Linked DNA regions of Homo sapiens. The protein of the gene in region 1 purifies or fractionates together with the protein of each later gene. This does not show direct contact. Each region holds a gene or a part of one and is shown on either strand. Other genes may lie near its edges.

Region 1 (3,500 bases):
ATGAGCCCAGGAGTTTGAGGTTTTGCAGTGAACTGTGATTGTGCTGTTGCACTCCAGCCTAGGCAATAGAGACCCTGTCTCAAAAACAAAACAGAACACCAGAGAGCTCTCTCCTCACCTCTGTTCCCACCCTCACTGGGCACAAAAGTAAAGCCATGTGGGGACACAGAGAAGATGGCCATTACAGTGAGAAAGAGAGTCTTTACGATGAACCAAATTAGCTGGGACCCTGACCTTGGACTCTTGGCCTCCAGAGCTCTGAGAACAAACATTTTTGTTGTTTACCCGCCCCCTGCCCCATGCCTGTGGCACTTTGTTACAGCAGCCTAAATAAAACAACTAAAATATGTGAGATGATGGCAAGGTGGGCAGAAGGAAAGTTCAGGAACTATGGACACAAGACTGTGGGCCCTATGCTACGGTCAAAGCCAACGGGTTCTCTGAATACCCAAAAGCTGGTTCTCTCTCTGGCTGCATTCTACAATCACCTTAGGAGCTTCAAACAACACCAATTCCTACGTGCCCTCCAGACTGAATGATCAGAACCTGAAGGTACAGCCCAGGCACCGGCACTTTAAAAGAGCTCCCCAGAAGATTCTAATGTTTAGCGAGAATTGACAGTACTGTCCCAGTGGGTCAATATCTCCCTAGCTTAAGACATACCAGGCGGGATGTGGTGGCTCACGCCTGTAATCCCAGTGCTTTGGGAGACCAAGGTGGGCGGATCACTTCAGGCCAGGAGTTCAAGACCAGCCTGGCCAACATGATGAAACCCTGTCTCGACTAAAAGTACAGGCTGGGTGCGGTGGTTCACGCCAGTAATCCCAGCACTTTGGAAGGCCGAAGCGGGCAGATCACCTGAGGTCAGATGTTTGTGACCAGCCTGGCCAACATGGCGAAACCCCGTCTCTACTAAAAATACAAAAAACAATTAGCCGGGCGTGGTGGTGGGCGCCTACACTCCCAGCTACTCAGGAGGCTGAGGCAGGAGAATGGCGTGAACCCAGGAGGCGGTGCTTGCAGCGAGCCGATATCGCGCCATGGCACTCCAGCTTGGGCAACAGAGCGAGACTCCGTCTCAAAAAAAAAACAAAAAACAAAAAACAAACTAGCCGCGTGTGGTGGCGCGTGCCTGTAATTCCAGCTGCTGGAGAGGGTGAGGCATGAGAATTCCTTGAACCTGGGAGGCAGAGGCTGCAGTGAGCTGAGATCGTGCCACTGCACTCTAACCTGGGCGACAGAGCAAGACTCCATCTCAAATGAAAAGAAAAAAAAAAAAAGAAAAAAGACATACCAGTGTTTTATTCAAATACATGAAAAATTCGGCCAGACACGGTGGCTCACACCTGTAATCCCAGCATTTTGGGAAGCCGAGGTGGGTGGATCATTTGAGGTCAGGAGTTTGAGACCAGCCTGACCAACACAGTGAAACCCTGTCTCTACTAAAAATACAAAAAAAGGGCTGGGAGCAGTGGCTCTTGCCTGTAATCCCAGCACTCAAAACAAAAACAAAAACAAAAACAAAAACAAAAACAAAAACAAAAAAATTAGCCTGGAGTGGTGGTGGGCACCTGTAACTCCAGCTATGCAGGAGGCTGAGGAAGGAGAACAGGAGAATTGCTGGAACCTATGAGGTGGAGGGTGCAGTGAGCCGAGATCGCACCACTCACTCCAGCCTGGGTGACAGAGTGAGACTCTGCCTCAATAAAAAGAAAAAAGAAAAAAAGAAAAAAAAACCATGAAAAATTCAATGAAAACCAGAACCTACAAAAACATGTCTGGTATAACTACTCCTATTGAGGACTATACTAGAGGCCACAGCCAGTGCAATAACATAAGAAAAAAATAAAAGGTACAGTGACAGAAAAGGTTTGGCATGAAATGTAGGTCTGTTAAACAAAATAAGAAAAGGAACAAGTGAAGTTGTACTTGCAGATGACATGACATTTCTATGTAGAAAAACAAATAAGTGAGTTTATTAGCAAGGTTTCAGAAGGCAAATTCAATACACAAAAATCGCCTGTATTTCTATATACTAGCAATAGACAACAGGAAATTGAGACCATCCTGGCTAACATGGTGAAACTCTGTCTCTACTAAAAATACAAAAAATTAGCCGGGCATGGTGGCGGGTGCCTGTAGTCCCAGCTACTCAAGAGGCTGAGGCAGGAGAATGGTGTGAACCCAGGAGGCAGAGCTTGCAGTGAGCGGAGATCGCACCACTGCACCCCAGCCTGGGTGACAGAGAGAGACTCTGTCTCAAAATAATAATAATAATAACAACAATATAATTTACAGCTGGGTGTGGTGGCTCACGCCTGTAATCCCAACACTGGGAGGCCGAGGTGGGTGGGGATCACCTGAGGTCAGGAGTTTGTGACTAGCCTGACCAACATGGTGAAACCCTGTCTCTACTAAATATAAAAAATTAGGCAGGCATGGTAGCACATGCCTGTAATCCCAGCTATTTGGGAGGCTGAGGCAGGAGAATCACTTGAACCTGAGAGGTGGAGGTTGCAGTAAGCCGAGATTGCACTGCAGCCTTGGTAACAAGAGTGAGATTTCATCTTATAAAAAAAAAAAAAATATATATATATATATATATACACACACACACACATATATTATTAAAAATATATATCTTATTAAAATATATATACATATATATGATCTATAATAGCATTAAAAATATAAAATATGTGGGGATATATTTGGCAAAAGACATGTCAGAACTGCACACTGAAAACTACAAAATATTGCTGACAGAGATGAAAGGAAACCTAAATAAATGGAGAGACATACCATGTTCATGGATTGGAGGACTCAATATTGAGATCTTAGTTCTCATCAAATTGATCTGCAAATGTTACCCAAACACAACCATCAAAAGCCAAGCAGGCTTCTCTAAAGGAAAGGACAAGCTGATAAAATTCACATGAAAATGTAAAGTATCTAGACCAGCTGAAAAAACTTTGAACAAGAACAAACGCGAAGGGCTAAGTTCATGACTTGTTGAAAAACTACGGGAACCAGACAGCGTGGCAGCATCAAGACGGACATACACATCAAGGAAACAGGACGGCCAGCCCAAAGGTAGACGCCACAGACCCTCACACACATGCAGTCCATGAATTTTTGACAGGTGCTGAGGTGATTCAACATGAGGAGGATCATCTTTTCACCTAATAGTTCTGAACAACTGGACAGCCACGTCTAAAAGAACGAAGCCCAACCACTTCCTCATACTACATACAAATATTAACTCAGAATGGATTATAGACCTAAATGTGAGGACTAAAACTATGAAACTTTTTAGAAGAAAGCACTGGAAATTTTTTTTTTTTTGTCTTTTTGTGAGACAGGATCTCCCACTGTTGCCCAGGCTGGAGTACAGTGGTGTGATCTCAGCTCACTGCAGCCTCAACCTTCCAGGCTCAAGCAATCCTCCCACTTCAGCCTCCCAAGTAGCTGGGATTACAGGCATGCACCACCACACCTGG
Region 2 (3,500 bases), about 44 Mb from region 1:
GACCATCCTGGCTAATACGGTGAAACCCCATCTCCACTAAAAATACAAAAAATTAGCCAGGCGTGGTAGCAGGCGCCTGTAGTCCCAGCTACTCGGGAGGCTGAGGCAGGAGAATGGCGTGAACCCAGGAGGCGGAGTTTGCAGTGAGCCAAGATTGCGCCACTGCACTCCAGCCTGGGCGACAGAGCAACACTCCGTCTCAAAAAAAAAATAAGCAAGATTGGGGGTGGGAAGTGCAGAACAGTGGGGAACCATGGGCAACTGTACATGAAAAGTGGGAAAAACAGGACTATACAATTGACCCTTGAACAACACGGGTTTGAACTGTACAGGTCCACTCATGTGCTGTAGTTATTCACAAGTGTGATCATAGCACACTATGGCCTCAAACTCCAGGCCTCGAGTAATCCTCCCACATCAGCCTCTGGAGTAGCTGAAACTACAGGCAAAGCTGTATTACATACAGATTTTTTTCAACAAATATATTTTTTAAATTTTTGGAGATGTATAACATTTTGAAAAAAACTCAGAAACAAAACACCTAGCCTAGAAACATCAAAAAAATTAAGAAAAAGTTAGGTATGCCATGAATGCAGAAAATATATGTAGATACTAGTCTATTTTATTATTTACTATAAGATATATACAAATCTATTATAAAAAGTTAAAATGTATAAAAACTTATGCACACAAATACAAACCATACATGGTGCCATTCATAGTCAACAGTAAACAAATGGAAAGGTGCAGTATTAAATCACAACTGCATAAAATTGACTATAGTATATACTGTACTTCTGTAATAATTCTGGAGCCACCTCCTGTTGCTGTTTCAGTGAGCAAGTGTTGTGAGTAGCCCCTAAAATGCTGTGTGATGCTAATCGTCTCCACGTGAGCAGTTCCTTCCTCCAGTAAAAAGTGTCACAGTAAAAAGTGATCTCTCAAGGTTCGTGCATATTTTTCATCATGCTTAGTGCAATACTGTAAACCCTGAATAACACCATGAGATCCATACCAAGTGCCACTAATGCTGGAAGTGCTCTCAAGAAACAGAAAGGTCATGACATTATACGAAAAAGTTGGCCAGGCATGGTGGCTCACACTTGTGATCTCAGGACTTTGGGAGGCTGAAGGCAGGAGGATTGCTTGAGCCCAGGAGTTTGAGACCAGCCACGGTAACATAGTGAGACCATGCCTCTACAAAAAAATAAAAACTTATCCTGGAGTGGTGGCACACACCTGTAGTCCCAGCTACTCAGGAGACTGAGATGGGAGGATGGCTTGAGCCTGGGAGGTCGAGGCCATAGTGAGCTATGATCAGACCACTGCACTCCAGCCTGGGCAACTGCCCCTGTCTCAAAAAAATAAATAAATAAAAATTTGAATTGCTTGATATGTACCACAGATTGAGATCTGCAGCAGTAGTGGTCAGCCATTAAAAAAAAAAAAAAAAAAGTAAATTCATGAAGCCAGGCTATGCAATGCCAACAGCAACAGCAGTTAAGTTTTGCGGGAAGTCAAAAATTATACCTGGGGCCAGGCGTGGTTGCTCACACCTGTAATCCAGGCACCCTGGGAGGCCAAGGGGGGTGGATCACCTGAGGTCAGGAATTTGAAACCAGCCTGGCTAACATGGTGAAACCCTGTCTCTACTAAATATACAAAAATTAGCTGGGCGTGGTGGCAGGCCCCTGTAATCCCAGCTACTCGGGAGGCTGAGGCAGGAGAATTGCTTGAACCCAGGAGGTGGAGGTTGCAGTGAGCTGAGATGGCGCCATTGCACTCCAGTCTGGGTGACAAGAACAAAACTCCAATTCAAAAAAAAAAAAAAAATGTCCGGGCGCAGTAGCTGACGCCTGTAATCTCAGCACTTTGGGAGGCTGAGGCGGGCAGATCACAAGGTCAGGAGATCAAGACCATCCTGGCTAACACGGCGAAACCCCATCTCTACTAAAAATACAAAAAAAATTAGCCGGGCATGGTAGCGGGTACCTGTAATCCCAGCTACTCAGGAGGCTGAGGCAGGAGAATGGCGTGAACCCAGGAGGTGGAGCTTGCAATGAGCTGAGATCACACCACTGCACTCCAGCCTGGACAATAGAGAGAGACTTCGTCTCAAAAAAAAAAAAACAACAACAACAAAAAAGAGGAGCCGGGCGTGGTGGCTCACACCTGTAATCCCAGCACTTTGGGAGGCCGAGGCAGGCGGATGGCCTGAGGTCAAGAGTTCAAGACCAGCCTGGCCAACATGGTGAAACCCTGTCTCTACTAAAAATACAAAAAAATTAGTTGGGCATGGTGGCGCACACCTGTAAACCCAGCTACTCGGGAGGCTGAAGAGGGAGAACTGCTTGAACCCGGCAGGCAGAGGTTGCAGTGAGCTGTGCCATTGCACTACAGCCTGGGCAACAAGAACGAAACTCCGTCTCAGAAAAAAGAAAAAAAAAAAAAGGAAATTAATGAAGCCAGGTTATGCAACACCATCACCAACAGCAGTAGTTAAGTTTTGCCGCGAGGGGGCGGCGGAGGGGGGGTCAAAAATTATATTTGGGGCCAAGGCACAGTGGCTCATGCCAGTAATTCCAGCACTTCCGGAGGCTGAAATGGGAGGAGTGTTGATGCCCAGGAGTTTGAGACCAGCCTAGGCAACATAGGGAGGCCCTGTCTCTACAAAAAAAAAAAAATTAGCCAGGCATGGTGGCATGCACCTGTGGTCCCAGCTACTCATTCAGGAGGCTAAAAAGGGAGGATCACTTGAGTCTACAAAGTTGAGTCTACATCGAGCCATGATCCTGCTACTGCACTCCAACCTGCGCAACAGCAAGAGATTCTGTCTTAAAAAAAAAAAAAATTATACTTGGATTTTCTACCGCACAGGGGTTGGCTTCCCAACCCCTGTTTTGTTCAAGGGCCAACTGTATCATTTCATTTTTAATTCTTCTTTTTTTTTTTTTTTTTTTTTGAGATGGAGTCTCCCTCTTGTCGCCTAAGCTGGAGTACAGCGGCGCGATCTCGGCTCACTGCAACCTGCGCCTTCCTGGTTCAAGTGATTCTCCTACCTCGGCCTCCCGAGTAACTGAGATTACAGGCACCTGCCACCATGCCTGGCTAATTTTTGTATTTTTAGTAGAGACGGGGTTTCACCATGTTGGCCAGGCTGGTCTCAAACTCCTGACCTCAGGTGATCCACCGGCCTCTGCCGCCCAAAGTGCTGGAGTTACAGGCGTGAGCCACCACGCCCAGCCATATATTCTTATTTGTAAGCATTCGCCTAAAGAAAGTCTAAAAGAGGCCGAACGCGGTGGCTCATGCCTGTAATCCCAGCACTTTGGGAGGCTGAGGCGGGCAGATCACTTGAGGTCAGGAGTTCAAGTCTAGCCTGGCCAACACGGTGAAACCACGTGTCTACTAAAAATTAAAAAATTAGCCGGGCGTGGTGGTGCACGGCTACTCAGCTACTCAGGAGGCTGAGGCTGGAGAATCGCTTCAACCCGGAAGGC
Region 3 (3,500 bases), about 180 Mb from region 1:
ACTTAAATAAAATACAGTGAGGAAGAAAACCACCATACAACACTCTAGAACTAAATTAAAGATAAGGAACCTTGAACATGCTGTAGGGTTATCGTGCCAATCCTACCATTTATTTTGTCAGACAAGAAAGAGCTGGCTGTGTTATCTATGTTTCATGCAAATTGGCTTTAAATATTTGCTGGTCTCTCCATTTTACTTGTTTAGTTTTATAATCTTCATCTTTTCTGGATCTAATAGGTTTTCTTCTTAATTCTTCTTGTTTTGACCAATAGTAAAGCACATTTCTCTAATTTGGATTTCTACAATATCCATATCTTGGTTTATGAAAGGTAGGGAAGAGACTTCAGGTACTGCAATCCCCCTTTTCCACTTACCTTGGCTCTGCCAGTACTTTGAAGAATGTGCACTAAGGCACAAGCCAACTCCTCTTTATTTCTCACACTAATTACTGGCTCAAGGACAGAACACAGCATGGTGTAGTTGCTGGTGACAAATTCTGCAAATTCTTTGTATTGCTCCATAGGCAGAATGGTGATAGTTTGGAAACGTGATTTAATCCGAATAGAAGGTCCTCCTGTCTTTCCTTTGTTGGGTGTAGGTGTACTCACTGGATACCACTTTTCTACAAATTGGCGACCAGTCACACTGGCAGTGGGGATGTTGACTAGCCCTACATAATTATTCTTGTCCTTTTTTTTCTTTTTTTCCACATCCTTGTAAATGTGAACTGTGATACTATGAAGAGGTGGAAGGCTGAAGAATTCAAAATGTTCGCCCCAGAAAATATTGTCTGCTTTGGTCTTGCTGGTTGTACGAGCAAAGAGGGTATCATCAAGGCACAGTTCGCAGAAATATTTCTTTTTAGGGGCAAGGTCCTTGGCTTCAATGATCCATAAACGAAGAACATTTTCAGCTCGCCTGCAATTGTCCTATAAAGAGGCAACAAAGCTGAATTTCAGAGCTGACATTGCAGAAAAAAAAACATTTTTTTCTTAAGTTGGCAATGTTCATTAGGTACTCTATTAAGGGGAGTCAACAAATAATGAAAGGGATTGCTATCTCATTGCTTAGGTTAACAGCAAGCTCTAAACAAGCATGCATTAGAATCTTGAAGAATTATATATAGTTCATTATATATATTATATATAGTTCATTCTATTTTATTTACTTGGGTTAAGAAAATATCATTTTGTAACGGTAAGTTTTCATATAACCAGTCTAATATCTGCAAATAAAAGAGATAAGCTGTTAAGAAGCTCGTATTCTAGTCCCTCTTCTATCATGTACTAGCTTCTGACATGGCCAATTCACCTAACTTTTCAGAGTCCTTTTATCCATGCTGGTAGAACCATGGCAATAATATCTGCAGTAAGACTGCTTTTAGCTTAAAATGATAATACAGTTTGGATAGTTGTCCCTGCCCAAATTTTATGTTGAATTGTAATCCCCAGTGCTAGAGGTGGGGCCTGGTGGGAGGTGTTTGGATCATGGGGGCAGATTCCTCATGCCTTGGTGCCATCTTCCTGATACTGAGTTCCTGTGAGATCTGGTGGTTTAAAAGTGTGTGGCACCTTCCCCCCAAGTCACTCACACACACACTCTCTCTCTCGCTTGCTCCTGCTTTCACCATGTGATGTGCCTGCTCCCCTTCTGCCTTCTGCCATGACTGTAAGTTTCCTGAGGCCTTACTAGAGGCTGAGCAGATAACAGCACCATGCTTCCTGTAAAGCCTGCAGAACCGTGAGCCAATTAAACTGCTTTTCTTGATAAATTACCCAGTCTCAGATACTTCTTTATGGTGATATAATAAGGGCTTACTACAAATGGCATAACATATAAATGTGCTTTAAAACTCTCAAGCTATAGACAAATTAAGGTATTACTACCACACTTACCTTCTATCAATTAACTGCTTACAAAGTTATACATTTTTTAGATACTTGAAGCTACTATTACCTTATTAGGTTGAACTGTCCTGCGAAGGTTTTCCATCCACTTGTCTCTCTCAGAAGCAGAATTACAGCTGAAGCATTTACTTCCACTTAAGTAGGTAACCTTCAACATAAAAATTAGACATAAGAAAAAGAAAACACTGGATTTCAGGGCTCTGTCATTAGGGTTCACAGCATACCTCTAACTCTTAAATGATAAGGTCGAAATGTCCTGGAATTAGGATGGATGGATGGATAGATAAGAAAAACATGGTCTCAGATCCCAAACTACTCATGCTGTGGTTACAAAAATAACCTAATGAGCGACATCCTTACCAATACTAAAAAATTAATATACTAATTTAGTGTTATTGTTAGTCTCATCCTCTGACGAAAATGTACTAAGAGTCCAATTTTATTGAAAGTAGACAAGGCCAAAAGGAATGCAAAGCTGTGAGTTAGACATATGCTATGAACCTAAATCATACCATAAGAAACTAAGATGATCTTTGCTAGTTTTCCGATACTTATATCTACATCTACATCTGCTTTTTGCTTAGGTAGCATCCACATCCATTTCCAGGTATGAGAACAAAGGCCATTTTAAATTCATCCAAGGAAATTAAAACTGGCCTATGGTTCAGAAAAATCAAAATTAAAGGCCTTTTAGGCAATAACTTAAATTACCTGCAAATAAATATGTTCAACTTTGAGTTAGTAAAAAATAGGTAATAAAGGATGAGAGTTTCTGAAACAGCTTATCAGATTTCTTGAGACTGTCCTCACTATATTATAGAAGGGTGCTAAATGAAATTGAAGAGTTACTAATATTGAATTACTATCTTTGGAACCCATTTTTCCTCCACTACGCAACCAGCCTGTTGATTTCTAGTCATTTATTAGGTTAGCCTGACCACTATTAACACAGTCCTTTAAAAATGAAATATGTTGTTATATACTTAGCACCTAACTCTGGGCTTGATATACAGCCTAATGAACTGAGTTCCGCAAATACAAGAAAGTTCAACTGATTTTTATAAAAAAGAACACCAATAAATGTCTTGCCCAAATTGCTGAAGTCTGCTCACTTATTAACTCAATCTCTGGTCACAACCTAATAAATCCGATCAGATTATATGCTCTGTCCAATACAGCAGCTACTAGCCTCACATGGCTATTCCAGATTGAGATGTGCTGCAAGTGTAAACACACATCAGATTTTGAAGACTTAGTTTTAAAAAAAAAGGAAACAATTTCTCTGATAGTGAACATGTTGAAATGATAATATTTTGGATATGCATGCAGATTGTACTATATTTCTTTTGGACAGTGCTGGTCCATAAGAAGAGGAACCAAACAAACATCTTTTGACTTCTACAACATCTAGTATAGGACTCATCTGTAGTCACTTAGTAAGCTCTTGTTAATTAATCAAATCTCAGCCCTAATAATTCTATGTATGTATAAATACATGTATATATAGTTTTTGAATTTTACTTGTAACTGGCTAGTAGTACATATTTGGAAGGGAGAAATTACCTTATGATAGTTGGCAATTTTGTTTATTCA
Region 4 (3,500 bases), on another chromosome or scaffold:
TTGACTGTAAGATGGCCGGGCATGGTGGCTCATGCCTGTAATCCCAGCACTTTGGGAGGACAAGGTGGGCGGATCACCTGAGGTCAGGAGTTCGAGACCAGCCTGGCCAATATGATGAAACCCCATCTCTATTAAAAATACAAAAATCAGCCAGGCGTGGTGGCAGGCGCCTGTAATCCCAGCTGCTTGGGGGGCTGAGGCAGGAGAATCACTTGAACCCAGGCGGAGGTTGCAGTGAGCCGAGATTGGGCCACTGCACCCCAGCCTGGGCGACAGAAAGAGACTCTGTCTCAATTAAAAAAAAACACACACACGCATTTTGACCGTAAGAATTCTCAAATGTTTGTTTTATTATTTAAATTTTTTTCTTAGAAAATGATTGTAGGCAAGATGTTAATGAAACATCAATGTATTTCAAAGTTCTCTTCAGTTTTAAGTAGAACATTTGAAAAATTAAGCCAGTAAACCTAAATTGATTAGATAACCAGTAGATATGTCTCCCTCGGGGAAATGTATAGGGGCTTTTTTTTTTTTAACTTTGTGGTTTTTTAAAAGTTCTAAAATTTTTTCTACATTAAAAACACATTGCTCAAGTTCTACTCTGAAAAAAATCCACATTGCTCTTATAAGCTGGAAAAACTTCAGAGCATACTTTTTTTGGGGGGGAGGTGTGATACTTGCATAATAGAACATTACTTTTTTTTAATTTTATTATTATTATTTTTTTTGAGACAGAGTCTTGCTTTGTTGCCCAGGCTGGAGTGCAGTGGCGCGATCTCGGCTCACTGCAACCTCCTCTTGGGTTCAAGCGATTCTTCTGCCTCAGCCTCCTGAATAGCTGGGACTACAGGCGCCCACCACCATGCCTGGCTAATTTTTGTATTTTTAGTAGAGACGGGGTTTCACCATATTGGCCAGGCTGGTCTCAAACTCCTGACCTTGTGATCTGCCTGCCTTGGCCTCCCAAAGTGCTGGGATTACAGGCGTGAGCCACCACACCTGGCCAAACATTACTATTTTAAAGTGAATAACTCAGTGGCATTTGGCACGGTAATAATGTGGTGTGAGCACCGCTTCCATCTAGTTCTGTATGATCTTAATAAGAAACCCAAACAATGCATATTTGGAAACTGGTATCATTAATTGCTTCCACGTGGGTGAATCGGGGACTTTTCAGTTTACTCTTTTAAGTGTTTCATGTTTTATACCCCCTGAAGATGCCATCCATTACAATAAAACAAAATTCAGCCTCTGAGAGGGACGTTTCTTCCCCATACACCGCAGCAAACTTTCCCTCTCTCCCCATTGATAACGTTGTGGTCATATGGTGGCCTGAATAAAATACTTTTATTTCAACTTGCTGTTAAATGTGGTCTTTTGGGTTTTAAACTTAAAATCATTTCCAACTACAGTCAAAATTTAAATGTGGTGGCTCATGCCTATAATCCCTGTGCTTTGGGAGGCTGAAGCAGGGGGATCACTTGAGGCCAGGAGTTCCAAACCAGCCTTGGCCATATAGCAAGACCCTGTCTCTATGCAAAACAGACAAAATTAGCTGGGTGTATTGGCATGCACCTGTGGTCCTAACTACTTGGGAGGCTGAGGCAGGAGTATCACTGGAGCCCAGGAGTTCGAGGCTGCAGTGAGCTATGACGTGCCACTGCACTCCAGCCTGGGTGACAGAGTGAGATGCTGTCTCTTTACACACACACACATGTATATATTTATTTATTTTTGAGAGTCTCATACTGTCACCTAGGCTGGAGTGCAGTGGCAAGACTTCAGCTCACTGCAACCTCTGCCTCCTGGGTTCAAGCAATTCTTGTGCTTCAGCCTCCCAAGTAGCTGGCATTACAGGCACGTGCCACCACACCCGGCTAATTTTTGTATTTTTAGTAGAGAGGGGTTTCACCATGTTGGCCAGGCTGGTCTTGAACTCCTGACCTCAAGTTATCCACCTGCCTTGGCCTCCCAAAGTGCTGGGATTACAGGCGTGAACCACCATGCCCAGCAACTCCCCCCAAAAAATTTTTAATGTAAGTTTATACTTAAAGTGAAGTTTATAAATAGGTTTTGATTGCACTTGGGTAGGAAGGTATTATGTTATAGCTTGTAAGACTTTTTGGAGGCTTTGTAATCAACAGATTAAAGGATGATTGCCATTTGAGTTTTGGTGTAATGACATTTGACTGATGGGGGTGGAATTGTCAGCTTTGACTTCCCCGCTGCCTGTGTGTTTCTCACGGTCATTCTTACTCTCTTTGCAGCGAGGCTCTCTTCTTAGTGAGCCTGCAATCCAGGTGAGAAGAAAAGGAAAAGGAAAGCAGATTTGGTCTTTGGAAAAACTGGACAACAGGCTGTTGGATATGAGAGACCTTTATCAGGAGTGGAAAGAGTGTGAAGAAGATAACCCAGTAAGTTATTTAAGAGAAAATCACTTAATTGGTAATTATGGAAGGAGCCAAGCTGGAATGAGTCTACCCATTTCAGGGGAAAATTGTTCTTTTTCCAAAATTATAATCCTATTTCTGGAGTAAGGTTTATTTTAATCCCCTAAATTGTTTAGCAAATTAACAATTTTAATAATCTCTCTTTCTGGTATCTTCTTTTTTCTTCTCATTTCTGTCTTTTAGATTTCTAGCAGAATTCTCCACTTTCCATTCTGACTTCTGTTGGTGTGCGGGTGTCTGTCTCCTGTGCTCTCTGGGAACCTCTTTAGGACAGAGGCCAGGCCTCATTATTTGTCTCTCCTCCCATTGCTCAACCCGTTTAACCTTGCAGATAATAAACCTACAATATATGTTTTGTAAGTTGAACATCGGTGGTATCTTAATATTTACACTCCAAGGAGCATTTTTGAAGAAGTTTTGATCATAACATAAATGCCATAAATCTATACATTGGTACTCTGTCCTTAACTTGCAGGTTTTCTTACTTAGATCAGCCATGTACTCATACGTATTTAAAATAGAAGTGCATATTATGTATGTCTGAACATATTTTCATTACCGTTAGACCTGTTTCCGCATAGAGTTGTTTACTTCCTTTGCCTTTTGTTTTGTAAAAATGATTTTTCCAGATTGTTATCAATAAAAATGTTTCTTATAGTTAGGTGATGTTTTTGCTTAAAACATGTTTGTCTCTTTGGTACCCCTCTCCTATTTCAACTTAGAAATAAAACAACAGTAATAAATAATGAAAGAGCCACTCCCATAGGGGCTCACCTTTTTTTTTTTTTAGATGGAGTCTTGCTCTGTCATCCAGGCTGGAGTGCAGTGGCACGATCTTGGCTCACTGCCTCCTCTGCCTCCTGGGTTCAAGTGATTTTCCTGCCTCAGCCTCCCGAGTAGCTGGGATTACAGGCGCCCACCACCACACCTGGCTAATTTTTGTATTTTTATTAGAGACGGGATTTCACCATGTTGGGCAGGCTGGTCTCAAACTCTTGACCTCAGGTGACCCGCCTGCCTTGGCCTCCCAAAGTGCTGGGATTATAGGTG

What was found. Proteins that work in one complex are often made in the same cells at the same time.
Region 2: the proteins of NADK (region 1) and TESK2 purify together in Homo sapiens (affinity purification with mass spectrometry, with the first as the bait; one large-scale study listed by BioGRID). This does not show direct contact.
Region 3: the proteins of NADK (region 1) and RASAL2 purify together in Homo sapiens (affinity purification with mass spectrometry, with the first as the bait; one large-scale study listed by BioGRID). This does not show direct contact.
Region 4: the proteins of NADK (region 1) and KIF13B purify together in Homo sapiens (affinity purification with mass spectrometry, with the first as the bait; one large-scale study listed by BioGRID). This does not show direct contact.

Annotation. Positions count from the first base shown.
Region 1 is NC_000001.11:1,768,471-1,771,970, forward strand, and holds part of NADK (NAD kinase), read right to left. Parts: intron 1-3,500.
Region 2 is NC_000001.11:45,481,164-45,484,663, forward strand, and holds part of TESK2 (dual specificity testis-specific protein kinase 2), read right to left. Parts: intron 1-3,500. UniProt on the Homo sapiens protein: Dual specificity protein kinase activity catalyzing autophosphorylation and phosphorylation of exogenous substrates on both serine/threonine and tyrosine residues. Phosphorylates cofilin at 'Ser-3'. May play an important role in spermatogenesis.
Region 3 is NC_000001.11:178,440,104-178,443,603, reverse strand, and holds part of RASAL2 (ras GTPase-activating protein nGAP), read right to left. Parts: intron 2,056-3,500; coding exon 1,957-2,055; intron 930-1,956; coding exon 375-929; intron 1-374. UniProt on the Homo sapiens protein: Inhibitory regulator of the Ras-cyclic AMP pathway.
Region 4 is NC_000008.11:29,141,071-29,144,570, reverse strand, and holds part of KIF13B (kinesin-like protein KIF13B), read left to right. Parts: intron 1-2,267; coding exon 2,268-2,414; intron 2,415-3,500. UniProt on the Homo sapiens protein: Involved in reorganization of the cortical cytoskeleton. Regulates axon formation by promoting the formation of extra axons. May be functionally important for the intracellular trafficking of MAGUKs and associated protein complexes.